Linked DNA regions of Homo sapiens: region 2 is linked to region 1. The links come from fine-mapping of genetic effects on gene expression. A gene starts in region 1. The other region holds a variant in brackets. All regions are shown on one strand. Distances are between the middles of the regions. Region 1 holds the start of MAN2B2 (mannosidase alpha class 2B member 2). Region 2 overlaps MAN2B2 (mannosidase alpha class 2B member 2).

Region 1 (9,354 bases):
GCTTCCCTGAGGCTTCCAGTTGCCAGGTCAGACCTGCAGGGTCAGCGCTGGGGTATCAGCACTTAGGCACGGTGGGCTGAGGCCAGAGGCGAGGTACCCCAGTGGTGGGTACCCTCAGGGCAGGGCAGTTCAGCGCCCACCCCTTGCCCAGCCTTGCCCAGTAAGCAGTGGTCTGGGCCAGACCCTATGCTGGGTGCTGAGATGAGTCAGATGGGGGTCCCTGCCAGGGGCATCTTGAGGTTCAGCGGTTAAGTGGGGAGGTGACACAGAACTGCAGAGACTCAGAGATTTCCTGCGGGAGGGGCTTCTCAGCTGCATCTTGAGGAGGAGGGTGGAGAATGAGGGGGAGCACTGCGTGAAATGGCACAGGTGAGAAACAGCCCCAGAGCCTCCTCGCTGGCACGGGGCAGGAGGCAGGTGGGGGACACGCCTACAGTGTCACACATTCCCTGGCAGTGGGCTTGTGAAGGGGTGTGGGGGAAGTCTGTTGGGATAGATCCCTTGCCCACACTTCACATGGGGGAGTGAAAGAGCAGGGGCTCTGGAGTCAGGGAGCCACAGCAGGCGGCTGAGGGCAAGGTGCTCCCTCTGAGCCTTGCTGTCCTCCCCTGTTACCTCTGGGCCTGTGGGGATGCAGGGGGACAAGCAGGGGCTGAGCTCCTGGCCACAGGAGGAGCTCTGTCTGTAGGGCTGTGTCCATCACGCCTCCTTCTCATGGAAGGGCAAGTCTAGGGTTTGAGCAAAGTCCAGATGTAAGGCAGTAAGAAACTGAGACAGGGGAACACTCCAGATTACAGATGAGAAAAGGGAGAGTGCCAAAAACATCCTTTGACAACATTGCTCTCTGCCTGGATGTTTTACAAATGGGGAAATCAGGGCCCATGCTGTAGTGGAGTGACTGTGGACTCGGAGCTTCAGTCCCTAGGCCTGGACTCAAGTCCTGGCCATCTACCCTGGAGAGAGTTACTGCATTTCTTTGGATCTCAGTTTCTACATCTGCAAAATGAAACTGGGCATCACCATGCCTCACCATCAGCCCGCCATTAGGATTGGCTGGGGTGTCACTGTGAAAGGCATTTGGTAAATGGTGAGTAGAGTGCCCCACGGCACTGTGGGTGATGGTGCTGAGGACAGTGGACACAATGGTGAGGGAGATGGTCATGGTGGTGGTGATGATGATTGTGGAGGGGATGGTAGTAATGGATGTGGTGATGGTGGTGGCGACAGTGATGGGTGGTGATCATGGTGATAGTGTTTAGGGGGTGGTGGTGATGGTAGTGGTAGTAATGGTCATTGTAGTGGTGAAGATGATGGTGGTAGTGGTGATGGTGGTGATGGTAGTGGTAGTAATGGTAGTGGTAGTGGTGGTCATAGCAGTGGTGAAGGGTGGTGGTGATGGTAGTTATGATGGTGGTGGTGATGGTAGTGGTAGTGATGGTCATTGTGGTGGTGAAGGGTGGTGGTGATGGTGAAGGGTGGTGGTGATGGTGGTGGTGATGGTGATGGTGGTGGTGGTGATGGTGAAGGGTAGTGGTGGTGGTGGTGATGGTGATGGTGGTGGTGATGGTGATGGTGGTGGTGGTGGTGGTGGTGATGGTGGTGGTGGTGGTGATGGTGGTGGTGATGGTGATGGTGGTGGTGATGGTGGTGGTGGTGATGGTGGTGAAGGGTGGTGGTGGTGATGGTGGTGGTGGTGGTGGTGATGGTGATGGTGGTGGTGCTGGTGATGGTGATGGTGGTGGTGGTGGTGGTGATGGTGATGGTGGTGGTGATGGTGGTGGTGGTGGTAGTGGTGATGGTGATGGTGGTGGTGCTGGTGATGGTGATGGTGGTGGTGGTGGTGATGGTGATGGTGGTGGTGATGGTGGTGATGGTGGTAGTGGTGATGGTGATGGTGGTGGTGGTGGTGATGGTAGTGGTAGTGATGGTCATCGTGGTGGTGGTGGTGATGGTAGTAGTCATGGTCATTATGGTGCTGAAGGTGGTAATTGTGATGGAAGGCAGCAAACACTTACTGAGCATTTACTAGGGAACCCACATCCTACTAAAGTGCTTTATTTGAATTATCCCATTTAATACTCACAACAACCCTTTGAGGTAGGTATTACCATCAAACTCATTTTATCTATGAGGAAACTGAAGTTACATTCCTTTCCAGGGTCACAGAGGAGGGAATTGGCAGAGCCAGGATATATTGAGACCATCTGACTCTAGCATCCATGCTCTTAACCCCTACATTCAACTTCCTTGGTGAGGCATGAATATGGCACTAGCAAATCACTGCTTTCACTGGTTAAGGTCCCCGACCCCACTAAGAGGGGCAGACAGAGCTCAGAACCTGGGGGTTCTGATACCATGTCCCAGCCCCACTGGAGGTCCTGAGGGACCCTGGGTGCAGGGTAGGGTGGCCAAACCTGTGAGCTGCAGGATCTGGTCATCAAGGTGCGTCACAGCCTCGTCATGCATGACCTGGCCTCCGATGACAAATTCCAGGCGTCCTTCCTCCAGGAGCTGGCGGACCTTGACATGGGCAGGCAGAGAGAAAAAAGCCAGTTACGGCTCCTGAGCATGGCTGGGTCTGTGGGGAACACACCTACAGCGCCACACACGCCCTGCATAAAACTCCCCACCCTTGCTTACTCTATAAAAGCAGGGCACTGTCTGTCCTGGTCCACACTGTGTTCCCACCACCTAGAAATCATGCAGCCCTCAGGTGGTATTTGAGATATATATTTGTATATATAAGATTTTCTTAAATCTTATTTTATTAACTAATTCTAAACTTTAGAAAAGTTTCAGGAATAGAACAAAGAGCTCCCATATCCTTTCCCAAGGTTCACTCATCACTACCATTTTTAACCTATTTGCTTAACATCCCCGTCTCTACACACATAACACCTTTGTTGCCCTAGACACTACACACCTCAGTATGTGTACACACAGCTGTTTATAGGCTGTGCCTTTGGTTTGTTTCTTAAGGTGCACTATATGTAGATCATTCACTCAACAAATGTTAAGTGAGCACCTACTACACAACCAGCACTGTTCAGGCACTGGGGGTTCAGCAGTGAATGAAGCAGGCAACAATTCCTGCCTCCAGGGAGCTCTGCCACAAGTTTCCTGTCCAGGTCTTCACTGGGCCATGCAGGCCATGCTTCTCTTTGAGGGCTAGGAGACAGACCACTGGGTTTGGTGGGGTCCACCTGAAGAAGCATGGGACGCTCACAGGATATCCTGGAAAGGCCTGCCTCGAGTCAGGCATGCCTGGCTCAGAATCCCACCTGCCGCTTACAAGCTGTGTGACTGCAGGCCAGTGGCGTGCCCTCTCTGAACCTGGAATGTCTCTTTAACTTGAGGTAAGAACCCCACTATCTGGCAGCATCAAGTGGCCATTGGATGTCCGGCTCCTTCCCGTGACTCTGGCGGGGCCTGGTGGACGCCCTGCTCTCCCTTCTCCGCTTCACTCCCTTGAGCAAGTCACTTGGCGTCCCTGAACTTTATGTTCAGCAACTATTCTGAAGGCAGGTGGATACCTGGGAGGAAACTAAGAACCCCCGAGTATCGTCCTGGGTGCTCACGCCAGGGCTTCATTCTTGGCATGACTTTTCTGCAATGGGGCGGTCACCCCCGTTTAATAGAAGTGGAATCTGTGGCTCGCAGGGGCTAGTCGTGTCCCCTGGTGCGGGAGCAGGATGGGACCCAGGCTGCCTCACTGTGCAGCGGGGACTCTGACTCTCCATGCTGTATGAAGCAACCTGCTGCCTACCCTCAAACCACAGGGACTATCGCACCCTCATCAAGGGTCACCAGACCCTGGGCCCGGGGGCCAGGCAGATAACACAAATGAGAGAAGAGGGTGAGGGCTTGGGGACACCTGGGATGCCTGGTGTCAGGGGGCACTGCTGACTTAGTGCCAGCTGGCACGGAAGTGCACAGCTGGGTTGCCAGAGCTGGCAGTTTTTTCAAGAATAGACAGAAATTCAGGATTAAATTGAAAGCAATCTCTCCCAGGCATGGAACTCACCGTGAACCTTGATCTAAACAAGGCTGTGAATAGCCCGGTGGGGTTTTGGCCCTGTGGTTTATGCCAGCCTGGCCCTGGCCCTGGCTAGAACTGCCCCATTGAGTTTTCCACCTGGGTCTTTGCCAGGATACTGGGCCAACTGTGTCACCTGGTGACCTCATTACCTGGTATTTCTGCTGGTCCGAGGCGACGCCATCCCACCACAGCCGGAAAAACTCCTGCTCCACAGCGATGAACCGGCGCTGCTGGCCGCGGGCCAGCTCTTCCACCACTGAGGTGTAGACATTGGCGGCGTACGCCCGCATGCTTTCCTGGGGAGGGGACAGCATCATGCCAGCCCCGGTCCAACAAGACCAAGTGTCCCTGGGGCCCCTGCCATTCGCCAGGTGTGTCTGCATGGGGTTGGGGGCTCTGCCCTTCCTTCCCTGCTGCTCACCCCCCACACAGCTATTAGGCACTCGCTCCATACCAGGCTCTCCCCACTGGATGGGATCGTGCTCTCCTGGGGGAGAGGGACGGGGAAACAGACACCCTACATGGGCAGAGACAGGTGCCCTCCCAGCCCAGGGGTCAGGGACAGTTTCTCAGAGGGGTGAGCAAGCTGGGCCTTGAGTGTGCAATTTGGGGGGCTGGGCCCTGAGTGTGCCATTGAGGGGCAGCACAGGAAAGTCTTAGGCCTCAGTCGGGGTGTGGTCCAGTGACCCCAAAGGGGCCTGCTGGGGCTGAAATGAGGAAAGCTGGTGCTGAGAGGAAGAGCTCCCCAGGCTGTCCCTGGCGTCTAGGCGTCTGCCTCCCCAAGGCTGGGAGCTCCAAGGACCACAGCTGTAGTGTGTTCCCATCCGAGTCCCGAGGGCCCTGCACACAGGGTGCCCACAGAGTGCTTACATGAATGGAAGGAGCACCGAGCAGGGAGTCAGGAGGCATGAGGGTTATTCCCGAGCGACCTTGGGCAAGGCAGCAACCCTCTCTGGGCCTCGGTTTTCTCCTCTGGAAACTGGCTGTAGTGGGCATGCTTCCCCTACCCTTTACAGATGGGGAAACTGAGGCTTAGGGACCAAAGCCCCTCGCCCAAGGTCCTGAGCAGAACCAGGAGGTGACCACAGGTCCACCTTCACCCCTGTCCTGGGGGGCGGAGGACGCTGAGCTGGCCTCCAATATTCAGCCCCGCAGGGGACCAGCCCGGCCCCTTCCCAGCGGGCACCTGACATCCACCTGCTCTGAAGCCAGCCCCACCCTCTCCTGCTCCAGGCTTCCCTGGAAAATGGGTTACCACTGTCAACCCCCAAGCCCCTCCCCAGCCGGGAATGCAGGGGTCCCTCCAATCTGCACCACCCTCCAGAAGGGGAAATGGGGGTTCAGAGGCAGGAAGTGACTGGCCCGAAGTTAGCGACGCAACCAGTCAATGGCAGCGTGGGGTCCTGAACCCACTGAGCCTCCTTCTGCGCCGGCATCGGGCCCCGGGACGCAAACCCACACTCAGATCCCGCGGGGAGAGGGAAGCTGCAGCCTCAGGGGCGCGCGGGGCGTGGTCGGCACCTACCTGCACAGTGTAGACCCAGCCCACGTCCATGTGGCTGTGGGGCACCACGAAGGCCCGGATGGGGCCGGCGGACTGGACCCCTGGCGGTCGCAGCAACAGGAGCGGTGCCAGCAGCGGCAGCCAGCACAGCTGCCCCATCCCTGCGGCAGGCCGGGAAGGTGCCAGGCCCACTTCCGGGTCCGCGAGGGGCGGGGCGGCCGCGCGGGCGGGGACGCGGCCCATTGGCTGCGGGCGGGGGCGGGGCCCATTGGTTGCCGGCTGGACGCCGACCCCGGGAAGCTCGGGAAGGAGGAGCTGGAGGCGCGGGGCCCTCAGCGGGGCAGGGCGCCTGCTCTTTGCGGTTTAGCTCTCCATCCCCGTCTCCAGCTTTCTGGCCTTCCCTCCCTGTCCATCCTTTCAGCCCCATCTCCCCCAAGCCTGCCAGATCTCCCCCAACCAGAGGAGACCCCTCCTCGCCCAAAGCCCACGCTCTGGTGGTTCCTCTCGGAGCGTGTGCCTCTTCGCAATACCTGCATCCCGCCCTCTGGACTCGGCTCCGGGACTCTGAGGCTACCGTGCAAAATTCGGCTCAGCACGGACCCTGTGAGCTCTGCCACCAGGAACCTTCCCTGATAACCCTTTCCCTCCTCTCCCTGGCGTCGAAACCCCATCTGGGCGGCGCCATGGGGGGCTTGTTATGGGACTGTCTCCTTTTTTTTTTTTTGGACAGGATCTCACTCTGTCTCCCAGGCCGGAGTGCAGTGGCGCGATCAGGGCTCACTGCAGCCTTGACCTCCCGGGCCCAAGTGATCCTCCCACCTCAGCCTCCTGAGTAGCTGGGACCACAGGGGCACACTGCCACACCCAGCTAATTAAAAAAAAAATTTATAGAGATGGGGGCCTCACTATGTTGCCCAGGCTGGTCCCAAACTCCTGAGCTCAAGCGATCCTCCTGCCTCCGCCTCTCAAAGTGCTGGGATTACAGGCATAAACCAGCATGCCTGGCTCAACTGTCTCCATTTTAAGGAGGAGAACTGGCTTTCAGAGACAGTAACTGACTTGTCCAAGATCACGCAGTTAGTGGAGGAGCCAAGAGAAGCTTTCTGGGTTACTGGATGGTGACCTGGGGCGACATAGGTAACCTCGCTGAGCCTCAGTGAAATGGGTCCGATAGAGGAGCTGTGAACAAAGTAAGGATGCACCCAGGCTGAGAGCGTGAGCACAGCACCCCTTGCCTGCACTCAGGGGAGGTGCGGTCACATTGGTGCAGCCTGTTTGGGACTGTTGCCTGGAGTCAGCCCTGTCCACTACTCCCTGCCCAAGAAAGCAAGGGTCTGTGGCTTGGGGTTTACTGTCTGAGAACCACTTGGCTGTGCCCCTGCCTGGCATTTCCTAGCGGAACCAGAGCTGCAGCTCTGAGCAAAAGTGCTGGTCCTCTTGTCCATTATGTAACAAATGGAAACTGAGAACAGGTTCTCCAAGCAGGTCTCCCTCCTCCTTCTGTCCTGTCCACCCCCTGGGGACCCCTGCATCCCCATAGCCTCAGGTCAGATGGTCTGAGCCTGACGTGGACAGTACTCACTAACACATGTCCCCATGACCGGCCAGGCTCACAGCTGGGCTCCACTCTCCAGCCTCTGCAACCAGGTGCGGCCACGTGGCTAAGTGCTAGTCAATGGGATGGGTGGGGGCGGGCACTGTGCTCCTCTTCCAGGCTGGCCCCTAACAACCTCCTGTGGGTGAGCCCTGCTCTCTTACTCACCCACTGCTCCAGTGGAGGGCACTCCGAGGACCTCAGGGAGGTTAGAGCCACCAATGGAGGCTCTGAAGAACCACATGGAACCATGAGGAACCCAAAGAGCTGTGACAAGAGGGAGAAATAAGCTTTAATTGTGTTAAGCCACTGAGTTTATCGATAAGGCAGTGTCACAATCTTTGGCAGACTGTATCTGCCAAAGATGGGCTCCACAACATTACCCACCCCCCAAGCTCTTTGTAGAATTTGGTTGACGAGAAAAGCCACACTCTAAAATATCTCAGAACGTTTATTCTAAGCCAAATAGGAGTGACCATGGCCTGTGACACAGCCTCAGGAGGTCCTGAGAACAGGTGCCCAAGGTGGTTGGGCTATAGCTTTATACATTTTATGGGGACAGAAGTTACAGGCAAAGACATGAATCAATATATGTAAAGTATACATTGGTTTGGCCCAGAAAGGTGGGACATCTTGAAGTGGGTGGGTGGTGCTTCCAGGTCAGAGGAGGATTCAAAGATTTCCTGATTGGCAATTGGTTAAAAGAGTTAAGCTTTACCTGAAGAGTTGGAGTCGGCAGAAAGAAATGCTTGAGTTAAGACAATGGGGATGTGGAAGCTAAGGTTCTTGTTACATAGATGAAGCCTCCAGTTAGCAGGCTTCAGAGAGAATAGATGTGCATGTCTCTGGGGACCTTAAAAGGTATCAGACTCTCTGGAAAAGAGCTAGTAAGTAAGGAGATTCTCTACAGAATGCAAGTTTCCCCCACAAGAGATGACTTTGCAAGTCCATTTCAAAATATGTCAAAGAAAATTTATTTTGGGGTAAAATACTTTGATTTCCTTTAGGGCCTGCTCTCTGTCGTGTGTTGCTATACCAGAGTCATGTTAGAATCGGGTATCTGATTGCTACAAAAGTGTTCTGTCAGTCTTAGGAGGATCTCTATGTTAATGTTAATGCTGGTCAGCTGTGCCGAAACTTAAAGGGAGGAGGCTATGATGAGGCATGTGTGACCTCCCACTTCCCATCATGGCCTGAACTAGTTTTTTGGGTTTCTTTGGGGTCCCCTTGGCCGACAGGGGGTCCATTCTCTCAGCTGGGGCTTATAATTTTATTTTTGATTTACAATATGATCTTGACATTCTTCCTATTAGGAGATAGGGTCTATGTCTCCTCTCATTGAATCTTGTTTATTTATTGTTTTTTATTTTATTAATTTTTGTGTTTTTTAGAGATAGAGTCTTGCTCTGTTGCCCAGGCCAGAGTGCAGTGGTGGACTCCTAACTTACTTCAGCCTCAAACTCCTAGGCTCACGTGATCCCCCTGTTTCAGCCTCCTGAGTAGCTGAGACCACAGGTATGTGCCATCATGCCTGGCTAATGAAAACTTTTTTTTTTCTTTTTTTTTTAGATATAATATCCCGTTATGTTGCCCAGGCTGATCTTGAACTCCTGGGCTCGAGGCATCCTCCCACCACCATCTCACAAAGTGCTGAAATTATAGGTGTATGCCACCATGCCCAACTAATTTTTCTTTTCTTTTTTGTAGACAAGATCTCTCTATGTTGCCCAGGCTGGTCTCAAACTCCTAGCCTCAAGGGATTCTCCGAAAGTGTTGGGATTACATGCATAAGCCACTGTGCCTGGCCCATGGGCGGGCTTGTGACACACTTGTTACAAAGAGAATGTAGTGAAAGTTGTACTGTGTGACTTCCATGACATCCATGTTCACTGGAGCACTCGTGCCTGGAGGCCTGAGTTGCCCTGTCAGCAGTCCAACTACCCTGAGGCCACCATGCTGTGAGGAAGCCCAACCAGCCCACATGGGGCAGACCACAGGGAGCAGCTCAAGATCACCATGCTGTTTCAGCTCCAGCCCCCCATCTGACTACAACAACATGTGAGACCTCATGTCATTTTCTCTCCTGCCCACTGTATCACAGCTGTGTAGGGTTTCATTTGTACTTTCCTCAAGGCTCTTGCGTGAGCTCTTGCTGCAGCTAGTCTCAGGCTTGAAGGTGATACTCACAACCCCCTCCTGGATTATTCATTCAGATCC
Region 2 (9,419 bases), 46 kb before region 1:
GCGCCCGGCCCCATCTCTCTTCTATCAGCTTCCGTGTGCGCGGTCCAGCTTCTGAGCTCTTTGTTTGCTCTGGTCTGAATGTTTTTGTCCCCCTAAATTCATATACCGAACCCTAATCCCCCAGTTGATGGTATTAGGAGGTGGGGATGTTGGGAGGTGATTAGGTTATGGGGATTAGTGTAACTGAACTCGGGTTCAGGCCACTCACTCGCCGACATTCGAGAGACAAGTTTTGGTAAAAGGAAAGGTAGCTTTATTCGAGAAGCCAGCAGCTTGGGAGGTGGGGGCAGGGGCACTGAACTCTTGTGTTCAAAGATCACCTCTCCAAGTTGTGTCTCCAGATGCACGTTTTTAAGGGAAATCTGGGGAAGTGCGAATGATGATCAAAGCATTCTTGTGGAACAGCAGCTATGTGCGCAGTCTCAGGCAGGTAGTTACGATTGCTGTCTTGCGGGGATGTCATGTGACCTTTTGCAAGTGCAGCTATTTTTTTTTTTTTTTTTTTTTTTTTTTTTTTTGGAACAGGGTTTCATTCTGTTGCCCAGGCTGGAGTGCAGTAGCATGATCACGGCTTACTGTAGCCTTGACCTCCCCAGGTTCAGGTGATCCTCCCACCTCACCCTCTACAGTAGCTGGGACTAAAGGCACGCACCATCACACCTGGCTAATTTTAAAATTTTTTTTAGAGATTGGGTTTTACCAAGTTGCCCAGGCTGGTCTCCAACTCCTGGGCTCAAATGATCTCTCCCCCTCAGCCTCCCAAAGTGCTGGCTGCACCAGGCCAGCCAGATTAGTCTTAGTTTTGCTTTTTTTTTGGACAGTCTCACTCTGTTGCCCAGGCATGGCTCATTGCAGCCTTGACTTCACTGGCTCAGGGGATCCTTCCACCTCAGCCTCCTGAGTAGCTGGGACTACAGGCGTGTGCCACACCTACTTAAATTTTGTTACTATTTATAGAGACGGGGTCTCCCTATTTTGCCCAGGCTGGTCTCAAACTTTTGGACTTACGTGATCCTCCTGCCTCGACCTCAGCCCAACTATTCTCATCTGGTGGGTGGAAACCTGCGGCTAGCCGCTTCCAGGATTGCTGGTCAGTGCACTTCTCTCTTATCTCTGCTGAAGGTCCTCTTTCCCTGAGGCTGTTTTTAATGAATAGTGTGTAAGCGTAAGCAAAGCTGTAATTATACTCAAGCAAACACAATTTTTCTTTAAGGTAGACTCAGTACTGTTATATTAGCACCCTCCTAGAAACCGAGCCCAGAGAGCTGCCTTGCCCCTTCTGCCATGTGAGGACGGAGCAAGACGGCACCATCTATAGACCAGGAAACAGCCCCTCCCCAGACACCGAATCTGCTGGCACCTTGGACTCCCAGCATCCAGAATTGGGAGAAATAAATTCCTGTTGTTGATAAGCCACTCAGTGTATGGTATTCTTTTTTTTTTTTGAGACGGAGTCTCGCTCTGTCACCCAGGCTGGAGTGCAGTGGCACAATCTCGGTTCACTGCAAGCTCCGCCTCCCGGGTTCCCGCCATTCTTCTGCCTCAGCCTCCCGAGTAGCTGGGACTACAGGCCGCCCGCCACCACGCCCGGCTAATTTTTTGTATTTTTAGTAGAGACGGGGTTTCACTGTGGTCTCGATCTCCTGACCTTGTGATCCGCCCACCTTGGCCTCCCAAAGTGTACGGGATTCTATGACAGCAGCCCAAACGGACGAAGATGTGCACTTGTGTGTGTGTGTGTGTGTGTGTTTTTTTTTTTTTGAGACAGAGTTTCGCTCTTGTCGCCCAGGCTGGAGCGCAGTGGCACGATCTCGGCTCACCGCAATCTCCGCCTTCTGGGTTCAAGAGATTCTCCTGCCTCAGCCTCCCGGGTAGCTGGGATTACAGGTGCCCACCACCATGCCCGGCTAATTTTGTATGTTTAGTAGAGACGGGGTTTCTCCATGTTGGTCAGGCTGGTCTCGAACTCCTGACCTTAGGTGATCAGCCCGCCTCGGCCTCCCAAAGTGCTGGGATTACAGTCGTCTGCCACTAAGCCTGGCTAATTTTTGTATTTTTTTAGAGAGGGGGTTTCACTATGTTGGCCAGCCTGGTCTCGAACTCCTGGCCTCTAGTGATCCACCCACCTTGGCCTCCCAAAGTGCTGGGATTACAGGCACGAACCACTGTACCTAGCCCCAGTGCACTTCAGAATCATCCTGTCAAGTTCCGCAATAAACCTGTTGGGGATTGTCAGTGAGCAACGTAGTTTATTGGGAGTTTGGTGGTGGTGGTTTGTAAAAAAAAAAAAAAAAAAAAAAAAAAAACAAACAACAACAACAAAAAACAGGCCATTCACAGTGGCTTGAGCCTGTAATCCCAGCACTTTGGGAGGCCTAGGTGGGAGGATCGCTTGAGCTCAGGAGTTCAAGACCAGCTTGGGCAACATAGTGAGACTGCGTCTCCACAAACATTTTAAAAATTAGTTGGGTGTAGTGACTCATGCTTGTAGTCCCAGCTACTCAGGAGGGTGGGATGGGAGGACTACTTGAGCCCAGGAGTTAAGAGGTTCCAGTGAGCTATGATAGTGCCACTGCACTCCCACCTGGGTGACAGAGCGAGACCCTGTGTCTAAAAAAGTAAAATGAAATGAAATAACAACAAAGCAACAAATGGATGTTAGATTTTAGCCAATATTCTGTCTATTGTGGGTGGGTTTTCCCCTGTCATCTATATTCTTCTCACTCTTCCCAGTTGAGGGTGCTGGGTGCTGGAGGGACCGCAGGGGGAAGTGGCTCTCTTGCTGTTTCTGTTCTGGACGGGGATGGTCAGCATGGGTGATGGTACTTTCAGTGCACATGATTTTTCTACAGCCTGGCTGCGCTGGGGATAACATTTCCATAGTCTTCTTTATTTTTTTCTGAGACAGGGTCTTGCTCTATTACCCCGGTTGGAGTTAGTGGCATGATCATGGCTCACTGAAGCCTCGACCTCCTGGGCTCAAGTGAGCCTCCCACCTCAGCCCCCAGAGTAGCTGGGACCACTGGTGCACACCACCACGCTCGTCTAAAGAATAGTTTTTGTAGAGATGGGGTCTCACTATATTGCCGAGGCTGGTCTGGAACACCTGGGCTCAAGCGATCCTTCTGCCTAGGGCTCCCAGCGTGTTGGAATTTCAGGCATGAACCACCACGCCTGGCCTCCGTAGTCTTCCTTTTTTTTTTTTTTTTGAGACGGAGTCTCACTCTTGTCACCCAGGCTGGAGTGCAGAGGCGGAGGTCTCCTCCGCCTCCCAGGTTCAAGTGATTGATTCTCCTGCCTCAGCCTCCCGAGTAGCTGGGACTACAGGCGCACACCACCACACCCGGTTAACTTTGTATTTTTAGTAGAGATGGGGTTTCACCATGTTGGCCAGCCTGGTCTTGAACTACTGACCACCAGTGATCCGGTTGCTTTGGCCTCCCAAAGTGCTGGGATTAAGGCATGAACCACTGCCCAGCCTCCATAGTCTTCTTGACACAGAAACCAAGCCTCATGCAGCCCACATGCTCTAAAGGGCTCCTGCCTCACTCCTTGTGCCTCAACCTCCCACTGCACATCCATGCCTCTGGTGGCTGCTCACCTGACCCCACCTCACAGGGGTGGCCTATTGCTTGGTCAGCAACTCCAGCCCAGCTCCTGCCTGGCCAAACCAGAGACTGTCTTTGCTGTCTGGTGGCCAAACTGCACGTTGTCCAGAGGTCTGACTCCTTCCAAGCTGGTCCTTTCTGGGTACTTTCCTTCAGCCCTAGAGTACCAAATAATTTCCTACATCTTACAGTTTACTCTTTAAAACGGTTTAGGCCGGGCACATTGGCTCACGCCTGTAATCCTGGCACTTTGGGAGGCCGGGGCAGGCAGATCACCTGAGGTCAGGAGTTCCAGATCAGCCTGGCCAACATGGTGAATCCCCGTCTCTACTAAAAATACAAAAATTAGCTGACGCAGTGGTGCATCTCTAGTAGCAGCTACTCGGGAGGCAGAGGCTGGAGAATTGCTTGAACCCAGGAGGTGCAGGTCGCAGTGAGCTGAGATCTTGACACTGCACTCCAGCCTGGGCGACAGAGTGAGACTCTGTCTCGGGAAAAAAAAAAAAAAGTTTTAAAATTGAGATATAATTCACAGACCATAAAATTCATCTTCCAAAGTTTTTAATTCATTGGTTTCTAGTATATTCACAAAGTTGTGCAACCATCATTCCACAATTTCATCATCTTCCAAAGAAAGCCCGTCCCTGTTAGCTGTCATGCCTCTTCTCTCTTCCTCCAGTACCTGGCAACCACCAATGTGCTTTGTCTCTGATACACAGATTTGCCTATTCTGGACATTTCACATAAACTCGTGATTGGCTTCTTTCACTTAGCGTAATATTTGTAGGATTCACTCAGGCTGTGGCATGCGTCAGAATTTCCTTCCTTTTTATGGCCAAATAATATTCCATTGTATGGACAGAACACACTTCATGTCTTAATTCATCTGTGGATGGACATTTGGGTTGTTGCTACCGTTTGACTTTTGAGTAATGCTGCTATGAACGCGGGAGCACAGGTATTGTGTGGATGGATGTTTTCAATTCTCTTGGGCATAGACCTGGGAAGGTTATACTTTTATTGATATTAATAGTTCTGATATTGGACATCCCTGCTGTGTGGTTTCACCTCTCATGGACTCTGACGGCTGCTGTGCCTTCTCTGCTCGGCAGGCGGTGCCCTGAGGCACAGGTGGGCGTCTGGGGCTGGAACTCTCGCTAGGCGCTACAACTTCCTCTCCTGCCCTGTGGCAGAGCCAAGCCCCTTGCAGGGCTGTTGCCAGCATGGGATGAGTCTATGAAAACACGTGGCACGCAGTAGGTCCACAGTTACCACTGGCAGCCTGGCAAGCCTGGCAGGGCCCGGACGGCAGATGCGCTTCGGTGCTGCTGTGAGTCTTGTG[C/T]TCTGCCTTAGGCAGAAAGTCCTGGGTTTGTGTTTTGTGAATGAATGACGCATGAGTGTGCCAAATATCCTTTACGTGACAGAAGAGGAGAGGGCTGGCTTGATTGAGTGTGGGGGGGAAGAACCTGGATCTTGTAATGTAATTTTTGTTTAAAAAAATTAGGGAAAAACCCCAAATATGACCATTTCCTGCCATTAGCCTGCAGATGAGCAGCTGACTCCCCAGTCCCATCCCTCCGCACTGCTTTTCCCTGTCCTGGGTCTGTTCTGTTACATGGAGTTCCTGGGGGAAGCCCTGGGGCCGGGGCATCTGCCCAGGGCTCACTGCTGTTGAAAGTGAATAAAGAACGTCCGGATTTCCTTTGGGTGGACGGTGATGATGGGGCCTCCTGGTGGCCTCGAGGGAGAGGTGGTGTCACCTAGGGGAACAGAGGTGATCTGTCCAGTGTGGCCTGGGATGCCTCCTCCCAGCCTCCCTCTCACCCCCTGCACCTGTCTACAGTCTGCTGTGGCTCCCAGCCTCCCTCTCACCCTCCTGCACCTGTCTACAATCTGCTGTGGCTCCCAGCCTCCTTCTCACCACACTGCACCTGGCTACAGTCTGCTGTGGCTCCCACCGTGGCAACGGCCTATGGCATCCCCTTCTGCCAGGACTCCTGTGGGCCTCTTGGCGTTTCTGCCCACCCTGAGGGCAATTCATAGGTTGGTCCTGGCCCTAGTGGCCTCAATTCCTCATGGGTGTTGCCCTCAAAGCCCAAGAGCTTTCTGAGACCATCTGGTGAGTCTGCCCTTGCCTCACCAGGCTCCCCTGAAGGCATGCCCTGGGGTTGGGCTTCGATCTTGGGAGGGAGCCGTCCACTTATCTATCACTCATCCATCTTCCTTCCTTCTTTCCAACCAACATCATCTTCCCTCCCTCCCTCCCTCCGTCCCTTCCTTCCTCCCACCACCAACTGAGCGTGCACCATGCACCCGCCACCATGCTGTGTGTAGTGGACAACGAGCTGCACAGGACAGAAGAAACCCCTGGGGCCAGGAGAGTGGAGGAGGCACTTGGCCTGGTTGGTGACTCTGGGGAGGCATCCTGGGGAGCTTGAGCAGGTGCTGGCCAGAGTGAATGGGACCTGTGCGTCCCAGGCAGAGGGCATGGTGCGGACAGGGAGTGGAGCCTGGAAGCTGCCTGTAGTGCAGGAGCTCACGGTGGCACATGTCGTATGAGGCAGGGACCGGCTGATGGGCTGAGGTCAGCAGGGCCAAGGTGGGCAGAAGCCCCTGGGCCCCTAGCTGTCACCCAGGGCACAGGCAGGGCGTGTGGTCTGCGTGTGCACACGTACAAGTGCACACACACGCCTGTGTGGAGCCCTGGCAGGCAGAGACTAACCCAAAGCCTTTCTTAACCGACTGTAGTAGATTTGGGAGGGCTGCGGGTTCAGAGTAGGAAAGCAGCCTCGCAAGGTCGCACAGGCCGGGACAGGCAGATGGTTGGATGTGCACCGGGTCTGACCAGCTGCTGAGCCTGGCTGGGAGTCCTGGGTAGGGAGCTGAAGCGGGGGTCCCCAAACCTCTGTGGCGGCCAGGCCCCGTCCTCCAGCTCCAGCGGTGCAGCATGCTCAAATCCCAGGTCCCTGTGAGCGAGCGCTCCTCCACTGCCACCACGGACCCCAGCGCCTGCAGCACAGCCTGCAGGGAGAGGAGCAGAGGGAGAGTGAGCTGCACCAAGTTCCAGAGCTGAGCAGAGAACCAAGACAGCAGCAGGGCAGACACACCACGAACTCGGTGTCCTCAGGAGCCCAGGTCCTCCCCTGGTGCCTGACACAGCTCCCTCATCTGCTTCTCACAGCACATCTGCGAGGACAGGACTGGCCGTGTACTTTACAGATGAGGACACTGAAGCGGGAGGTGCATGCTTTACCAGGTGGCCGAGCTGGAGGAGCAGCCCGGGAGGTGTGGCATTTTGAGCTGCCCACCCCACCGCGGAGTTCTCCTCTCCCCACATTGCTCAGGTGGCCCCGTGCCCAGTCCAGGGAGGAAGCCAGCCACAGTTACCCCATCCCCCTTTCCCAATAGGCCTTGTCCCAGCCTCCCTTACACCTAGGGGAGGCAGGAGGCCCTTAGGGGTCTGGAAAAGTCTGTGGAGCAGGAGGGCTGGGGGTGGCTCTTGGAGAAGCTTCTGTGTGCTGACGGAGGGAGAGAGCCACGCTAGGGCAAGGCCTTTCTGGCCACTACTGCTGAGCCCTACCCTGCCTTGAAATTTGCTCATGAGGGAGGCCTGTGCCATCTTGTGACCGCAAACAAGCAGACGGCAAAAGACAAAAGCCAGTCTGCCGGCGATGGCGGGAAGATGACAGTGATCGGGCCCACGGTGACAGCGCTTGGGGTCCATCGGACATGCCTGTTCGGTGAGAAAACACTCTGTCCTCTGTTCTAAGCACATCTGTTAGGTGTTTTGTGACTTGCAGCCAAACTCACTGCGTTCCTAACTCAATGGTCTTTCCACCCCACCACCGTCCACGTTGGGCAGGGAGTCATGGTGTCCATCCCAACCGTCTCCTTGTCTCAGGGCCTTGGTGCTTCCATCTGTGAAACGGGGGAGCATCAGATGACCAACTTCCAGGTCCCACGCTGGCCTCCTTGCTTCCCAGGGCAGGCTGGCCCTGTGCTGGGCACTGGTACCCGCCATGGCCTAGACCTGCTCTCAGGCAGGCCAGGGACCGTGAGGAAAGGATCCTCCGTGGCGAGGATCATGAAAGAGGAGGTGGGTGGCCCAGTAAGACATCATGGCGAAAAGGTACTGGGGCTTCTCTGGATTCCCCTGAAGACTCAGATGTCGAAGGAGGCCCAAGGCAGAAACACAGAGATTCACAGAAATTCTCCATGAGCAGGAAATGAAATAGAAAGAATGCAAACTGGGAAAGAAATGAGGCGGCTCAGGTCATGCCTTCTGGGGAGGGAGCGTGGGCAGGCCAGGTGGCGGAAGCCTCGCCTGATAGTAGAGCTGAGAGGGCAACATCAGCCAAGAGGGGAACCTGGAAGGGGACGAGGCCTGGGGGCCCTGACACTGCACGAGGCCCCTTAGTGCCAGGGCCTCTCAGCAACCTTCTGGGCAAAGAACTCTCACCTCTCCCCATTTTACATGGGGGGAAACTGAGGCCCAGAGGCATGGGGTGCCGGAGATGCCCCCGTAGAGGGGCCTGGGTGTGGACCCTGGATTGTCTGACTCTAAGTCACCTTTCAAAGCAACTCTATGGGGAATCTGTTTTGTTTTTGGATTACACAGATGTTGTCTGTGTTTTAAAAGTTTTACCACAGAATAAATAAGAAAGAAAATACAGGCCACTCACGCCTGTAATCCCAGCACTTCAGGAGGCTAAGACAGGCAGATTGCTTGAGGCCAGACGTTCGAGACCAGCCTGAGCAACACAGCAAGACCGTGTCTCTACTAAAAATAAAAAAACTAGGCCAGGCTTGGTGGCTCACGCCTGTAATCCCAGCACTTTGCGAGGCCGAGGCAGGTGGATCACCTGAAGTCAGGGGTTCGTGACCAGCCTGACCAACATGGAGAAACCCTGTCTCTACTAAAAGTACAAAAAAATTAGCCGGGCGTGGTGGCACATGCCTGTAATCCCAGCTACTCGGGAGGCTGAGGCAGGAGAATCACTTGAACCTGGGAGATGGAGGTTGCAGCCAGCTGAGAGCGCACCATTGCACTCCAGCCTGGGGGACGAGAGCGAAACTCGGTCTCAAAAAAAAAAAAAAAAACTTAGCCATCGTGGTGGCGCGCCCCTGTGATCCCAGTTACTTGGGAGGTTGAGGTGGGAGGATCACTTGAGCCAGGGAGGCAGAGGTTGCAGTGAGCTGAGATTGTGCCACTGCACCCCAGACTGGGCAACAGAGTGAGATCCTGTCTCACATATACACAAAAAACCCTAAAAAACCAGGCCAGTTGTAATACCTGACAAACCCAGAAGACCATGAAGAAGGGCGGGGTGGGGCCCATACCAGCGTCCATTTGGGAGGAAGCCCTCGTGGATCTCTTTGCCAAGGCAGTTTCTTGGGGCTTCATCTAGGGTTTGCTTCCCTGGCTTATGGTCTGGATGGGGGTGGGGAAGTTCACCTCCAGATTCACTGTCACTGGCTGAGACAGGACTGGGTCCTCGCCCACTTCATATAGGTGGTAGAGCCGCAGCAGGACACGGCGGAGGTCAGCCTGGGCTTCCCCTCGATGGCCTTTGGGGACAGAAGGAAGGTGGCAGTGAAGACCCTCATCAACCAACCCCAATGTCCCTGGTCTATACCCGCTGCTTTACACACTCAGCTCCATTTCCTATCTGTAACCTCCTCGATATGGTTTGGCTGTGTCCCCAACCAAATCTCATCGTGAATTGTAGCTCCCATAATGTCCACATGTTGTGGGAGGGACCTGGTGGGAGGTAATTGAATCATGGGGGTGAGTCTTTCCTGTGCTGTTCT

What was found. PIP is the estimated chance that this variant, and not a neighbour inherited with it, causes the effect.
Region 2: its variant is fine-mapped to the expression of MAN2B2 in whole blood (INTERVAL, PIP 0.93).

What each region holds. Positions count from the first base shown.
Region 1 is chr4:6,571,559-6,580,912 of GRCh38, reverse strand. MAN2B2 (mannosidase alpha class 2B member 2) reads right to left here and starts at 5,724. Exons shown (of 19, transcript NM_015274.3): 1 at 5,565-5,724; 2 at 4,189-4,335; 3 at 2,415-2,520. The coding sequence starts at 5,702. It overlaps LOC105374365 (a long non-coding RNA gene), which reads right to left. Exons shown (of 3, transcript XR_925098.3): 2 at 7,306-7,404; 3 at 6,575-6,722. RefSeq lists a silencer at 5,475-5,934 and enhancers at 5,223-5,991, 5,992-6,759, 6,760-7,528.
Region 2 is chr4:6,617,137-6,626,555 of GRCh38, reverse strand. It overlaps MAN2B2 (mannosidase alpha class 2B member 2), which reads right to left. Exons shown (of 19, transcript NM_015274.3): 17 at 9,064-9,176; 18 at 6,512-6,629; 19 at 3,194-5,368. The coding sequence ends at 5,271. Among named protein-coding and RNA genes, the nearest start is that of MRFAP1, 19 kb to the left of the region's middle. RefSeq lists a silencer at 3,913-4,106. The variant C/T (reference allele first, on the strand shown) is at 4,951.